Regions from separate parts of the Homo sapiens genome. Here region 1 is linked to region 2. The links come from fine-mapping of genetic effects on gene expression. A gene starts in region 2. The other region holds a variant in brackets. All regions are shown on one strand. Distances are from middle to middle.

Region 1 (8,329 bases), 45 kb after region 2:
GCATCAAACTCCTGGGCTCAAGCCATCCTTCTACCTTAGTCTCCCAAGTAGTAGGAACTACAGGCGTGGTCCACCACACCTGGCTAATTTTTAAAAAAAATTTTTGTAGACACAAGGTCTCGCTGTATTACCCAGGCTAATTTTGAACTGGGCTCAAGCGATCCTTCCACCTCAGCTTCCCAAAGTGCTGGGATTACAGGCATGAGCCATTGCACCCAGCCTATATTTGCTAAATTTTTGAAGAATGAGGCAAAAAAAAAAGGTTCAGTCTCATTTGACATTAAGATATATTTATATAATGCAAATTGAGTGATTACTATGTGCTAGGTCTTGTCAACATGTTACTAATCTAATTTAATCTTGCCAACAACCGGCAAGGTATAAGGAAGCCAGGAGCACAGAGATACTAGATAATTTACTGGGCTGTAAACTCTATGGTGTAGGGAGAATGTCTGTCTTACCATGGTATTCTCAGTGATGAAGTCAAAGTCTCATTTGTAATAGAAGCTTAAATATTTGTTGATAAACAGGTGGTTATACAAGGTCTCATAACCGGTAAGTTGCAGAGCTAGGATTTGAATTTTGGTCTGTCTGTACCAAAGGTTGTACTCTTTTTTTTTTTTTTTTTTTTTTTTTTTTGAGGCAGAGTCTCTTTCTGTTGCCCAGGCTGGAGTCAGTGGTGCCATCTCAGCTTACTGCAATCTCCGCCCCCTGGGTTCAAGTGATTCTCCTGCCTCAGCTTCCCAAGTAGCTGGGACTTGCCAAGTAGGTGGGCATGCACCACCATGCCTGGCGAATTTTTAGTATTTTTAGTAGAGACAGGGTTTCACCATGTTGGCCAGGCTGGTCTCAAACTCCTGACCTCAGGTGATCCGCCCGCCTTGGCCTCCCGAAGTGCTAGGATTTACAGGCCTGAACCACTGCGCCTGGCCAGTTGTACTCTTAAGCTCTGTGGCTACTTACTTCCTACTTCTGCCATATCTCTACTTCTCATATATACTTAGGATTTGCAAAGCCACATGATAAGCATAACATGTCTTCTTAAAGCAAAAATTTGACTACATATAGGAAAATATTTTTGGTTAAGGGAAACATCAATATGTGTTTTTGTTTTGTTTTGCTTTTACTTTTCTTCTGGGAGTCTGAAAAAAACATCAGTATGTTTTAGAGTAGAGTGCAAAAGTTGCTTGGATTTTTAAAGACAAAATGGTAAGCTTCATAGAAATGTGCTTTTGGCCAGGCATGGTGGCTCACACCTGTAACCCCAGTGCTTTGGGAGACCTAGGCGTGAGGATCACTTGAGGCCAGAAGTTTGAGGTCAGCCTGGGAAACAGCAAGACCTATTCTATAAAAAAATGTTAAAAAGGCTAGGCGTGGTGGTTCACGCCTGTAATCCCAACACTCTGGGAGGCCGAGGCAGGTGGATCACGAGGTCAGGAGATCAAGACCATCCTGGCTAACATGGTGAAACCCCGTCTCTACTAAAAATACAAAAAAATTAGCTGGGTGTGGCGGCGGGCACCTGTAGTCCCAGCTACTCGGGAGGCTGAGGCAGGAGAATGGCGTGAACCTGGGAGGCAGAGCTTGCAGAGAGCCTAGATCGCGCCAGCCTGGGCGACAGAGCGAGACTCCATCTCAATAAATAAATAAATAAATAAATAAATAAATAAATAAATAAATAAATAAATAAATAAATGTATGTTAAAAAATTATCCAGGTGTGATGGCACATGCCTCTAGTTCTAGCTACTCGGGAGGCTAAGCAGGAGGATTGCTTAAGCCCAGGAGGTCAAGATTGCAGTGAGCCATGATCACACCACTGCACTCCAGCCTGGGTAACAGAGCGAGACCCTGTCTCTAAAAAAAAACTAAATAAACATAGATATGCTTTTGGTGACTGCTTGAGTCAGTGTTCCTCAGGAGCAGTGCTTCCATGGGACAAGTTGAAAAGCTGGACTCCAGAGGGATTCCAAGTGGCACACCTGATAGTTGAGTGATCCTCTTCATGTCTGCCTGGCCAGTTGAATTGTACATTGCAATGTCAAATCCTGTTAAAACATCTCAAAAGTGGATAAAATACTACCTTTTATGTTAAGCAAGATATGAAACTTGCCAACTTTTTTTTTTCTAATTTCTAACAGAGGCAGGGTCTCACTGTGTTGCCCAAGCTGATCTCAAACTCCTGGGCTTAAGGGATCCTCCCTCTTCGGCTTCTCAAAGTTCTGGGGTTACAGGTGTGGGCCCACTGTACCCAGCTTGAAACTTGCCAGCTGTAAATGCCTTTCGTGTTGCAGCTGAGTCTCATGGTTTCTTGGAGATTCTGGCTGCAGTTCCCATGTGAAATGAGGAAGGGAGATCCAGAGGTTTGATCTACCTTTTTTAGTAGGTGGGCCAAGTGGTTACATGATATCTCTTTGTAATTTTAGGGGATTCAAACCGATGACAAGGGTCATATCATCGTAGACGAATTCCAGAATACCAACGTCAAAGGCATCTATGCAGTTGGGGATGTATGTGGAAAAGCTCTTCTTACTCCAGGTAAGGTCTCTTCCCTTCTTGGTGAGGGAGGGTCTGCGTGTTACATGATCCATCTGGCTCTTCACTGTCAAATCTGCAGTCTGCTTAAGCAAAGTTAAAAGGATGAGTGTCTTTATATTGTCAAAATGGTACAATGTGTTGAAATAGATATTGGTTGGATACCTGACATTATCTGAATAAAAGACTTAAAATGCTTAGCACAGACTGAAGTTTTCATGTAGACAATATGATCACCCGTTGCGGAACTCTCTTAGGAGCAGACTTGTGCTTGGTGGCAGTGGAAGGAAGTGGCATTTGGAAGAAGTAATTTAGATTGGCATTTTTTTTTTTTTTGGAGACACTCTGTTACCCAGGCTGGAGTGCAGTGGCATGATCACGGGCTCACTGCAGTTTCAACCTTCCTGGGCTCAGGTGATCCTCCCACCTCAGACTCCCAAGTAGCTAGGATCACAGGTGCATTTTTTGTAGAGACAGGGTTTTACCATGTTGTCTTGAACCCCTGTGCTTAAGCAGACTGCCTGCCTCAGCCTCCCAGAATGTTAGGATTACAGGCATGAGCCACCACACATGGCCTAGATTGTCATTCTTGTATGACTGGTCTTGATACAACCAAGACTGATTTCCTTCTCTCCGGCATCCCACACCTCAGCCCGCTTCCTAAGCACCATTGCAAGCTCTGTCCCATCTCTATCCATTAATGATCACTTGATCTACTTTCAGTCTGTACCTAGAACCTCATCAGCGATTCCAGCGTGTCCCAGGGCCTTATATCAGGATGAAAACCTACACCAGTCACACACCCAAACCCTTTTAGCTCCTTTAGAAAGTTCTTGCTCTTGGCTAGGTGTGGTGGCTCCCATCACTTTCAGAGGCTGAAGTTGGGGGATCGCTTGAGTCTAGTAGTTTGAGACCAGGCTGGGCAACATAGTGAGATGTTGTCTGTATTAAAAAAATAAAGATTCAGCTGGGCACGGTGGCTCACGCCTGTAATCTCAGCACTTTGTGAGGCCGAGGTGGGCAGATCACGAGGTCCAGAGATCGAGACCTTCCTGACCAACATGGTGAAACCCCATCTCTGCTAAAAATACAAAAATTAGCTGGGCGTGGTGGCACACGCCTGTAGTCCCAGCTACTTGGGAGGCTGAGGCAGGAGAATTGCTTCAACCCGGGAGGCAGAGGTTGCAGCGAGCTGAGATGGCGCCACTGCTCTCCAGCCTGGCAACAAGAGCGAGACTCTGTCTAAAAAAAAAAAATAATAATATAATAATAATGATAATAATAATAAAGATTCTAGGCGCAGTGGCTCATGCCTGTAATTCCAGCACTTTAGGGTTATAAAATAGAACTAAAGATGCTGAAAACTAATATAGCTTGTTCCATAAATATTGTATTAAAAAGCTAATATCTTCATTAAGTAGATTAACTGCCAGGTAAGTGAGAACTTGTGAATGTGTCTTTTGGGAGTGGGGCCAGACAGGTTGAGCATCCCTTATCTGAAATGCTTGGGACCAGAAGTGTTTTCAGTTTCAGATTTTGGAATATTTGCATATATATAATGAGATATTTTGCAGATGCGACCCAAGTCGAAACACGGAATTCATTTGTTTTACATACACCTTATACACATAGTTGGTAGGTAACTTTATACGATATTTTAAATGTGTGCATGAGGCATACTTTTGTCTGCGTTTTTGACTGCAACCCTTCACATGAGGTCAGGTGTGGAATTTTCTGCTTGTGGCATCATGGTGCTCCAACATTTTGGATTTTGGATTTTGAATTTCTGGATTAGGGATGCTCAACCTGTAATAGAATGTATAGGATTCTCATAAGCCAATCATTTTGAGTTGTTCGCTGAGGCATGACATATCTTCGCTGTATTAAACTATCTAGATAGTGTAATGAACAATGGTGTGAAACTGTCAGAACTAGGGCATTAAGGTAGATGGATAAATGGCTAGTGGAACAATTTAGCTATGTT[A/C]AAACAGACAGTAAGATAAACACTGATTTTAAAATATCTCCATAGTTGCAATAGCTGCTGGCCGAAAACTTGCCCATCGACTTTTTGAATATAAGGAAGATTCCAAATTAGATTATAACAACATCCCAACTGTGGTCTTCAGCCACCCCCCTATTGGGACAGTGGGACTCACGGAAGGTAGGTATTTAAAAACTGAAGGTCATTTGTGGTTTCCTTCCTCTTTCCCCTGCCCCCAACTTTAAATTAGGTCTCTGTCAGCTGATGAAACCTATCTCAGCCCCAGATTACATTGCTTTTTGGTTACTCTCTTGTCACAGTTCCAGTTTTCTCCCCTGCTACTACTTTGAGTGTACAGTATCTTTCCTTCACACCACCCTATCTCTTTGATCTTTTTTTTTTAGCTTTTTTATTTGAACTAATTTTAAATTTAAAGAAAAGCTCTAAAAATAATACAAAGGACTCCTCTCTAACCTTAATATTTTTGCTTTTTTATTTTTTCACTCTACACACACACATGTCTATCTTTCCTAAGAACTGGCCCTTACATAAACCGAGTATCATTTTCTTTTTTTTTTTCTTTTTGAGACAAGCTCTCCCACTGTCACCCAGGCTGGAGTGCAGTGGCACGATCTCTGCTCACTGCAACCTCCGCCTCTGGGTTCAAGCAATTCTTCTGCCTCAGCCTCCCGAATAGCTGGGACTACCAGGCCTGCACCACCACCATGCCTGGCTAATTTTTTGTAGAGATGGGGTTTCACTGTGTTGCCCAGGCTGGTCTCAATCTCCTGGGCTCAAGCGATCCACCTGCCTCTGCCTCTCAAAGTGCAGGGATTACAGGCATGAGCCACTGTGCCTGGCCTTTCTTTTCATCTAGAGGCAGAATTCCTCAGCCCTTCTTTTGTCTTATATGACACTGACATTTATTTTGTAGAATACTTCTCATTTTGGCGTGGTTTGATATTTCCTCGTGGTTTGATTGAGGTTATGTATTTCTGGTCATCTCCCTCTTTGATAGTTCAGTGTAATTGTTTAGTTTTCTGATAGATGCTTTTTTTAATGTGCATTGTAGATGAAGCCATTCATAAATATGGAATAGAAAATGTGAAGACCTATTCAACGAGCTTTACCCCGATGTATCACGCAGTTACCAAAAGGAAAACAAAATGTGTGATGAAAATGGTCTGTGCTAACAAGGAAGAAAAGGTAAGGAAAAATCCAGCAAACTAAATAGTGCCTTGCAAAATGGACAGGGATGGCAGTATTTTGCAGGGGTGGAAAGGAGGGAGACCAAGCAGTTGAGCCTTCTGATTCAACTGGACAGGCCCACTTTGATCTGTCTTACCTGCATTTTGGGGTTCTTCATAATATTTCATCTAGAAGGAGGTTCCACTCCTTTTAAAAAATAAAGACGATGCCAGGCGTGGTGGCTCACACCTGTAATCCCAGCACGCTGGGAGGCCGAGGCAGGCATATCACCTGAGGTCAGGAGTTTGAGACTAGCCTGACCAACGTGGTGAAACCCTGTCTCTACTAAAAACACAAAAATTAGCCAGGCATGATGGTGCGTGCTTGTAATCCCAGCTACTCGGGAGGCTGAGGCAGGAGAATCACTTGAACCTGGGAGGCGGAGGTTGCAGTGAGCCAAGATCATGCTACTGCCCTCCAGCCTGGGAGACAAAGCGAGACTCCATCTCAAAGCAAAAAAAAAAAAAAAAAAAAAAAAAACAGGAGAGGCCAGGGCCAGGCGCTGTGGCTCACGCCTATAATCCTAACACTTTGGGAGGCCAAGGTAGGCGGATTGCCTGAGCTCAGGAGTTTGAGAGTAGCTTGGGCAGCATGGTGAAACCCCATCTCTACTAAAAATACAAAAATTGGCCGGGCATGGTGGTGCCATGAACATTCCTCAGTAGCCTATGATTTCTGGATATTGAATCATGAAGGCTCCTACTTAGTTATTTCTTCATGCCAGTTATCATTCATTCAGTTGATAAACATTATTTGTCATTCTTCTCAAGACTAAGAACTGCTATATAGAGAGGAATAATATGAAGAGCTGGCCATCACCAGAGGCTCTTTATAAGTTCAATTAAGATCACAATATCAGTCAGACACCGTGGCTCACCCCTGTAATCCCAGCACTTTGGGAGGCTGAGGTGGGTGGATCACTTGAGCCCAGGAGTTCAAGACCAGCCTGGCCAACATGGTGAAACCCTCTCTCTGCTAAAAATACAAAATTAGCCAGGCGTGGTGGTGCGCGCCTGTAATCCCAGCTACTCGGGAGGCTGAGGCAGGAGAATCACTTGAACCCGGGAGGTGGAGGTTGCAGCGAGCCGAGATCATGCCATTGCACTCCAGCCTGGGCAACAAGAGTGAAACTCCGTCTCAAAAAAAAAAAAAAAAGAAGAAAGAAAAGAAAATGTTTCTCTTCTTTTCCCAGGTGGTTGGGATCCATATGCAGGGACTTGGGTGTGATGAAATGCTGCAGGGTTTTGCTGTTGCAGTGAAGATGGGAGCAACGAAGGCAGACTTTGACAACACAGTCGCCATTCACCCTACCTCTTCAGAAGAGCTGGTCACACTTCGTTGAGAACCAGGAGACACGTGTGGCGGGCAGTGGGACCCATAGATCTTCTGAAATGAAACAAATAATCACATTGACTTACTGTTTGAGTTTTATGTATTTCTTTATTTTAATCAGGATCTTCTGATAGTGGAAATTTTTAGTACATAATAGAACTTATTTATGGAGTTAGAAATTTGTAGTGTTATCCAGGATTGATTTTCATTTGATCACATCTCACAGTAATTAATATTTTCAAGTTTTTTTTTTATTAACAGCTCTGTGCTAGTTTTTTTTTTCTGTTTTAGCCTCATCCCAAATATAAAGCTTTGTGAAGTACAATTAACTTAATGTACTTGAATGAATAGAACTTGCTACTTTTTTTTTTTTTTTTTTTGAGACAGAGTTTTGCTCTCATTGCCCAGGCTGGAGTGCGGTGGTGCTATTTCAGCTCACCACAACCTCTGCCTCCTGGGTTCAAGTGATTCTCCTGCCTTAGCCTCCCGAATAGCTGGAATTACAGGCACGCACCACCATGCCTGACTAATTTTGTATTTTTAGTAGACATGGGGTTTCTCCATGTTGGTCAGGCTGGTCTCAAACTCCCACCTTCAGGTGATCCGCCCACCTCGGCCTCCTGAGGTGCTGAGATTACAGGCGTGAGCCACTGTGCCAGCTTGCTAATTTTCACAGAAGTTGATGGCAATTCTTCACATGTAAACAGTGCCAGTGCACAGAACCTTTATATATTTTTTGAAGCCAGTACTGTGCTCTGCATATAACAAAGCTGCTTCAAGGATGAGACCTTTTTCTAAAAGCATGTAATGTGAGAAGCCGGCCTGCCTTATTTTCTTTTTTCTTTTTTAATGATTAAAAATAGTTTGTGGCAAGGCACGGTGGCTCAGGCCTGTAATTCTAGCACTTTGGGAGGCCGAGGCAGGAGGATTACTTGAGCCTACAAGTTTGAGGCCAGCATGCACAGCATAGCAAGACTGCATCTCTACAGAGAGTAAAAAAAATTACCCGAGTGTGGTGATGTGCATCTGTAATCTCAGCTACTTGGGAGGCTGAGGTGAGAGGATCACTTGAGCTTGGGTGAGGTGAGGCTGCAGTGAGTCCTGATCATGCTGCTGCACTCAATCTTGGACAACAGAGCAAGACCCTGTCTCAAAAAAAAAAAAAAAAAATATATATATATATATATATTATTTTTATGAGGTGAAGTGCATCAAACTTGGGAAAGATTTGAGG
Region 2 (8,329 bases):
TTGTTTTCCTTTTAGCTGAGGGCATTTGTTCTTCCAATGTCCTATTTCTTTACAATAAGCACACTGATTACGCTGCAAGCTCTGACAGCCAGGCTGAGTTTCTTTCCCGGGGCCCCCCTTCCCTTGCCTTTTTGTGGGAGATCCCTCTAATTGCTGCAGCTAACAGCTCGGCATTTCGCCGGGCCTGACGTTCATTCTCTCTGCGGTTTTCCTTACGGCTTACTGCATCCCTGTTTACAAACACCTGGTTAGCTATTTCTAATAATTGTGATGTGTTCATCCCTGCAAACCCAGCCTGTTTCTGCAGTTTTCTTCTAATGTCTTCTGCGCTTTGACTAACTAAAGCCATGTTAATCATGCGTTGATTTTCAGGGCTATCGGGATCAAAGGGAGTATACATGTGATAGGCCTCACACAGTCTCTCGTAGAATTGTGCTGGACTTTCTTCTTTTCCCTGAATGACCTCAGAGAACTTATTAACGTTTGTGGCCTTCTGGGCTCCCCTCTAATCCTTCTAAGAGAGCTTCCCTGTATCGGTTTAGCCTTTGCATATCCTCTCTTTCATTTGGGTCCCACTGGGGGTCGGTTCCCGGTAACTGGGTCCTTACATACTCTTGGGGGTTTTGGTAATCAGCCGGTGCATGTTCCCCTAGCCACTTAGTTGCTGCTTGGAGCACTCTCCGCCTTTCATCTGTGTTAAAGAGGAACATGAGCAACTGGTGGCAATCAGCCCAAGTGGGGTTATGGGTCTGGATAATAGTTTGGAGCAAATCAATTAGAGCTTGTGGCTTTTCAGTACAGGACGGGGTATTGTTTTTCCAGTTGAGAAGGTCGGCAGAGGTGAAGGGCTGGCACACAAAAACACGCCTCTCCGCCATGTGCCCATCCTCATCTATTCCAGTATACCGCTGCTCTCTCAAGGGCATTTGTATCCCCGTTTTGGGTCTTAAACGAGCTGCCAAGGGAGGGGTTTCTCCTGAGGCTTCACCTCCTCTCTTGTCTACTCTGGGTGGCCTAGGGATATGTTTGTCTTGCGGAGGCACAAGCACTGTGGACTCAAAAGTGGGGAGCCTCTCTCCCTGGTAAGGGGAGGGCACCACTGGGATGACTTTTGCCATCTCCTGCAATGGATCGTCTGATGTTGGGTCGAACAGAACTTCAGGAGTTGATTTCCCTCGGTGGGTGGAGCGGGATCCTTCCTTGACTATCTGTCCCTTTGCTACTAGCACTGCTGCTGCCTGCCCTCTTACCCACTGTGGTAACCAAGTGTCTATGTATGGAAACTGGTCTGAGTGTCCTGACTTACCAGTTACCTTGTGCCATACCTTAGAAACAAGGGACCTGTCCAGGCTTCCTTCTGATGGCCAACCCACTTCTAATGTTGGCCAATCTATTTCACACAAAGTTCTAAGTTTCCCTGGTGTCATAGTAACCCCATAGTCGCCATTAAATCCCTTCTTAAAATTTTTCAACATAGTTCCTAGAGGAGTAGGCTTATTTTGTGTCTGACCCGTGTTTCCTCAAGACAAAACACCAAGCTCACACCAAACGCACACCACAAAACAAAGAATGGGTAAAAAGGGCACACACGCACTTTTTCAGTTTTCACCAAACCAGAATCAAAACCAAAATCAGAGTATCCAGTAATCCAAGCCAGGTCAAACCAAAACCAAAGTGTCAAGCAATTCAAGTCAAGTCAAAAACAAAAACCAAAGTGCCAGTACAGGCACGCCGTGGGTGATCAGGCCATGCTTCCACTCAAATGGAGTGGGCAAGTTCCGAAGACCAGTCTTACCAAGTTTCAAATGTCCGGACTCCAAGTGCCTGTTCCTTCCCGGTGTTCAGCCACTGCGTTGATACTCCACGGGGGCCTGCCACGCACTGCTCTGACTAGGCGTTCCACCGGGGCAATTGCCTACCCAGGAGCGCTCGCAGGATCCGCGTCGCTCAAGCTGGCGGGAGTTCCCCGCAGGGATGCTCCACAGGGCAGGCCTAAGCCCCCTAAGGGGCTGCCTCGACTGTCCGTCAATTACCTCGCTTCCCAGTCAGGGAACCAAGAAATATAGCAGGATGAGTCACAGACAAAACTCCTCAGACACCAGATTAAAGCAGGAAGAGGTTTTTTATTCGGCCAGGAGCGTTGGCAGACTCGCGTCTTGAGAGCCGAGCTCTCCGAAAAAGAAATTCCTAGCCCTTTTAAGGGCTTACAACTCTAAGGGGTCTACGTGAAAAAATCATAATAGATCAAGTAAGCGTGGGAAACGTGACTGGGGGCTATATACATCAGCTAACAGAACAAAAAGTTTTACAGTGCTTTCTCATACAATGTCTGGAATTTACAGATAACACCAATAGTTTTGGTCAGGGGTTAATAATATTATTATTATCTTAGCCACCAGGGCCAGGTGGTGGTGCCAAGGTCGTCTAGCTATTTATCTTACTTCTGTTTCTTTCCAACTTTTTGCTTTCTCCCTTTTCTCCTGTCTTATAAACTAGGGAAAAGGGGAGGTTGGGGAGAAACTGAGAAGGACAACAGGAGAAGTGGTGACCTCATACCATAATCCTAGCATTTTGGGAGGCCGAGGTGAGAGAATCGCTTGAGGCCAAGAGTTCCCTACCAGTCCTGGTAACATAGTGAGACCCTATTTCTAAAAAAAAAATAAAAATAATAAAAAAAATAAAAAAAAAAATTAAATAAATAAATAAATAAATTAGCTGGGCGCTGTGGCGGGCACCTGTAGTTCCCAGCTACCGGGAAGGCTGAGGAGGGAGGATCGCTGCTTGAGCACAGTAGGTGGAGGCTGCAGTGAGCAGAGATCGCATCACTGCACCCCTGCCTGGGGGAGAGTGAGACCCAGTCTCAAAGAAAAAGCAAGAACAAACAAAAGTGGTCTCTGGAACAAACCTGGACAAACAACCCTTCGAATAGAGGCAAATTTCTCTTCCTGGAGAAGCCGTGCCACTGGCAACTCCCCAGGGGGCCAGCTCGGGAAAAGCCAGCTGAAACGAGAGGACGTTCACCGTTCCTCGCCTCGATCCACCGGACTTCAGAAGGCTACACGCGGCAGGCGCCGCTCGGGATCCAGGGGCCGGGGTGAGAACGGAGGCGGAGAAACCCCTCAGGCTCCGCCACCGGGGCGGGGAACTGGGAGGCGGCCCCGCCTCTGGGCATCCTCCTGGGTCTTGCCTAGCGGCGGGCGCATGCTTAGTCACCGTGAGGCTGCGCTTGCCCGGGGCCCGCGCCCCCCTACCCCGGGGACCGCCCCCGGGCCGCCCGCCCCACTTGGCGCGCCACTTCCGCGTGCATGGCCCTGCTGCCCCGAGCCCTGAGCGCCGGCGCGGGACCGAGCTGGCGGCGGGCGGCGCGCGCCTTCCGAGGCTTCCTGCTGCTTCTGCCCGAGCCCGCGGCCCTCACGCGCGCCCTCTCCCGTGCCATGGCCTGCAGGCAGGAGCCGCAGCCGCAGGGCCCGCCGCCCGCTGCTGGCGCCGTGGCCTCCTATGACTACCTGGTGATCGGGGGCGGCTCGGGCGGGCTGGCCAGCGCGCGCAGGGCGGCCGAGCTGGGTGCCAGGGCCGCCGTGGTGGAGAGCCACAAGCTGGGTGGCACTTGCGTGAGTACCGCCGGTTTGTTCGGGCGGGGGGCGCCTCTTTGTCTCGGTCTTTCGGGGGACAGCCTGTGCTCGTTCCTATGGCGATCCTGTCCCCCGGCGCTGGGCTTTCCTCTTTTCCACCCCCGCAACTCCCCATTCCGAAGCCAGGAACCCAGCAGGTGGAGGAGAGAGAGGCGTCCGGGGGCTTCTCTGCGGCCCGCAAAGCCGAGCCAGCGTCTGCTTCCGCACGGATGCGATATTGACCAGGGCCGGGGCGGGTTAGATTAACCTTCCTCCATCCTCACTTGTCCAAGTGGGAGAGGATTGGATTCTGTTCTTGACCGCGTGAAACACAAAACTGCATCTGGGAACATTGCTGGTGGCCTGTGTGTAGGGACGAGGGTGACGGTGCCATAGATCCTGGTTCTTGAAAAATGTAGATCCTGGTTCTCCCGTTTCAAGGGCAGAATGATTTATAGCGGTTGTTGTCAACCTTGGCTACACATTCGAATCACCTGAGGGTGCCTGGATTCCCGACTTAATTGGTCTGAGGTGCACTTGGGCTTTGGGATGTTTCCCGACTTAATTGGTCTGAAGTGCAGCCTGGGCTTTGGGATTTTCGGGTGATCTGAATTGCAGCCAAGGCGACCTTGAGTAGGTGAGTTCTCAGAGCTTTTGTTTTGTCTTGGTTTTATGTGGATTGCAAAACTAAAAACAGAGGGATGTAAATCCTGAGATTTACAAAATTCATAATTTTTGAAAATAAGGGTTTTTGTTTGTGTTTGTTTTTTGAGACAGGGTCTTGCCCTGTCACCTAGGCTAGAGTGCAGTGGCCATCATAGCTCACTGCAGCCTCGAACTCCCGGGCTCAAGGGATCCTCTCACCTTGGCCTCCTGAGTAGCTGGAACTACAGGGGGCTAATCACCACGCCTAGTTAATTATTATTATTTTTTGTAGAGATGGGGGTCTCGCTATGTTGCCCTTGCTGATTTCAACCTCTTGGACTCAACCGATCTTCCCGCCTCAGCCTCCCAAAGTGCTGGGATTACAAGCCTGAGCCACTGCACTCATTCTAAAAATAAATGTTGTTTCCAAGTTATTGGTGTGCCCGCCCTTTTCTATCACAAGATTTGGGTGTTGACGATTAAAATGCTGTATCCAAGAGGAACCTGGGATTTGGGATAGGTTCTCTAAATTCCTTTGGAGATGAATATTTAAATTATGTCAAATTGGGAGCTCTTTAAGGACAGGGATGGGCTTCTGTGTTTGTGTGTCTCTTATCACCTTAAAATCCCTTGCTCAATAAGCACTTGTGCAATGAATGAAACTAAAAATGGACAGTTATGAAAAGGTTGACTTCATTGTTCAGTGCCTTGGAGATGAACATGGAGATGAAGAGAAAGGAAAAATCTCTGTTAATTATCAACTTGCACTTTGACACCATAGTCCAGACAGAAGGTTAGAAATCTGTCTCTCCAGAAGGCAGATTGTGGGGTGCCACTAAGTGCCCCCCTCCCACACCTCATGAGAGTACTTGATCACTTCTCACTTCTGTTCTGCTCTCCACATTTTCTCTGTCTTCCTCTTTCTCTACTTATGTTATAATGTGCTTCAGAGGTTCACCCACTTTACCTTCCTGTTATGAATTCTTTTTTTTTTTTTTTTTTTGAGAGGGAGTCTCACTCTGTCACCCAGGCTGGAGTACAGTGGTGCAATCTGGGCTCACTGCAACCTCTGCCTCCCAGGTTCAAGCAGTTCTCCCGTCTCAGCCTCTCGAGTAGCTGGGAATGCAGGTGCATGCCACCATGCCCGGCTAGTTTTTGTACTTTTAATAGAGATGGGGTTTTGCCATGTTGGCCAGGCTGGTCTCAAACTCCTGACCTCTGGTAATCCACCCACCTTGGCCTCCCAAAGTGCTTGGATTACAAGCATGAGCCACCACACCCAGCTAATTTTTTATTTTTAAAATGTATTTATCTATTTTTTTTTCGATATGGAGTCTTGCTCTGTCACCCAGGCTGGAGTGCAGTGGTGCAATCTCGGCTCACTGCAACCTCCGCCTCCTGGGTTCAAGCAACTCTCCTGCCTCGGCCTCCCAAATTGCTGAGATTACAGGTGCCACTACACCCAGCTAACTTTTGTATTTTTAGTAGAGCCAGGCTGGTCTTGAACTCCTGACCTTGTGATCCGCTCACCTCAGCCTCCCAAAGTGCTGGGATTACAGGCGTGAGCCACCACGCCTGGCCTGTTTTTATTTTATTTATTGTTTTTTAGAAACAGGGTTTTGCCATGTTGCCCAAACTGGTCTCTTATGCCTGTGCTTAAGCAGTCGGCCTGCCTTGGCCTCCCAAAATGCTGGGATTACAGGCATCAGCCACCACTCCTGTCCCATTTTTTGTATTTTAAGTGCTGGGATTGGGGGTGGGTAGGGAGAAAACGATAGATATAAACATTTGTGAGACATGTCCCTTCCCTTAAGGAATTTTGTGGTTGTGAAAGAAAAAAATATTGGAACCCCAAAGTATGCCAGAAGGAAAGTTCAGCTTGGGAACTGAATCACACAAATACTGCTTTTCCTTTTGTTCCCAAACAGACAGCTGTAATTTCACAATCCCATGTCATAGCCTTATCTCCTCTACTCCTGCTTTTCACTTTTACTTTATCTTATGTAAAATGTAGATTTACTGAGGCTCATAAGAACCTCACAAGAATGTAACCATCTAGGCTGGGCGTGATGGCTCACGCCAGCACTTTGGGAGGCCAAGGTGGGCAGATCACCTGAGGTCAGGAGTTCGAGACCAGCCTGGCCAACACGGTGAAACTCCGTCTCTACTAAAAATACAAAAATTAGCCGGGTGTGGTGGCACATGCTACTTGGGAGGCTGAGGCATGAGAATCACTTGAGCCCAGGAGGCAGAGGTTGCAGTGAGCCAAGATCATGCCTCTGCACTCCAGTGTGGGCAACAGAGTGAGACTCTGTCTCAAAAAAAAAAAAAAAAAAAAAAGGTGGGGGGTTGGGTAGTATTCTTTGACATTCGGAACCTCAAAAGATGGGTCCCAGGCCTAGGCATCAAAACGGGATATGTTGTGTAATCAAATTTGGAGCACAGAGTGTCTCTTTAATAGAAATAAGAGATGAGAAGCTGATGGGTAGGTTGTGGTTTGAAAAATGTGGAGTTTCTGGACACACAGTGAACTATGGGGGCAGGGGTGGGTTTGAGCAAACCAGTGACTCAGTGAAAGTAGTTTTGTGGTAAGCCATAGGATTGAGATCTCACCCTTGGCGATGCCCAATAGAAGTTTGTCTTTCTGTCTTTTTCTTTTTCTTTTCCTTTCAGTTTATAGAGATAGGGTCTCACTACATTGCCTAGGCTGGTATTGAACTCCTGGACTCAAGCAATCCTCCTGCTTTGGTCTCCGAAAGTGTTAGGATTACAGGCGTGAGCCACTGTGCACGGCAGAAGTTTAAGATTGGTTCTCCCATGAGTTCTTTCCTAAATAAAATCCATTAATTTCTAACGCTTGGGGAAGTTTTAAAGTTGTGGTGAATGAACTCACACGGAAGGTTCAAATTAGAATGTGTGTCTAGCAGTGGTCATTTACAGGTAGTGAGATTGGTTGGTTTTTCATTGTTTTATCAGTGTTCCTTCATTTAATTGTTCAACCGTTAAAGTTTATGGGAGGCCATTGTTTTGGACCAGTCTCCTGTACTAGGTCCCAGCAGACCTGGGTGTGTGTGTGTGTGTGTGTGTGTGTGTGTGTGTGTTTGTTGCTCTGTCACCCAGGCTGGAGTGCAGTGGGGTGATCTCGGCTCACTGCAACCTCCGTCTCCTGGGTTCAAGGAATTCATGTGCCTCAGCCTCGTAAGTAGCTGGGACTACAGGCGCAGGCCACCACGCCTGGCAAATTTTTTGTATTTTTAGTAGAGATGAGGTTTCACCATGTTGGCCAGGCTGATCCCGAACTCCTGACCTAAAGTGATCCACCCGCCTCAGCCTCCCAAAGTGCTGGGATTACAAGTATGAGCCACCGCGTCTGGCATGTTGTTTCATTTTTAAGAGACAGGGTCTCCCTCTGTTTCCCAGGCTGGAGGGCAGTGGTGTGATCTCAGCTCACTGTAGCCTCAAACTCCTGGGCTCAAGCGATCCTCCCACCTCAACCTCCCGACTAGCTGGTTCTGCAGGTAGATACCACTGAGCCTTGCTTGAATTCAGCATTTCAAGTCTCCAAAAGGTTAAGTATATTGCTTATCTCATGATCTCGTGTAGACTGGAGAGAAATGCAAAGATCGCCCAAAGTCAAGGTGAATTAGAGCCTTCTGGGAGCTTTGCCTCTGTGGTTCGCTTCTCTGCCTACACACGTGATGGGAGAGTCAGCTTAAGGAAAAGTTGTTTCTAAATTGCTGCTCCCTTTGCCCCAGGGCCTGGGGAACTTGCGGTCCTGGGTTCCTGCTGAGTGTACTGATTCTGTGATAAGAATAACCAGGTTCCTGTGGTTTTGGCGAGTAGTACTTACCAATGAGAGTTGGGTAGTAAGGGTTGATCATGTGACAAAAGTTCATGATTGCCAAGTCACAGTGAACTATGCTGCACAGCAGCAGTTGGAGAGGCCTAGGGGAGAGAGAGGTAGGGGCTTTGAAAGATCAGTGAACAGCAGGCTGCTCAGTGAATCATTGTTCATCTAGGCTGAAAACAATTACCCAGCAACATGTAAATCATAACCTCATTTGGAAGTGATA

What was found.
Region 1: its variant is fine-mapped to the expression of GSR in whole blood (INTERVAL, PIP 0.93).

Annotation. Positions count from the first base shown.
Region 1 is chr8:30,678,296-30,686,624 of GRCh38, reverse strand. It overlaps GSR (glutathione-disulfide reductase), which reads left to right. Exons shown (of 13, transcript NM_000637.5): 10 at 2,426-2,537; 11 at 4,564-4,695; 12 at 5,588-5,721; 13 at 6,956-8,329. The coding sequence ends at 7,105. Among named protein-coding and RNA genes, the nearest start is that of GTF2E2, 24 kb to the right of the region's middle. The variant A/C (reference allele first, on the strand shown) is at 4,519.
Region 2 is chr8:30,722,812-30,731,140 of GRCh38, reverse strand. It overlaps GSR (glutathione-disulfide reductase), which reads left to right and starts at 3,295. Exons shown (of 13, transcript NM_000637.5): 1 at 3,295-3,611. The coding sequence starts at 3,306. It also overlaps a transcript of UBXN8 not described here. RefSeq lists enhancers at 1,423-1,947, 3,710-4,397 and silencers at 3,035-3,124, 3,195-3,634, 6,779-6,838.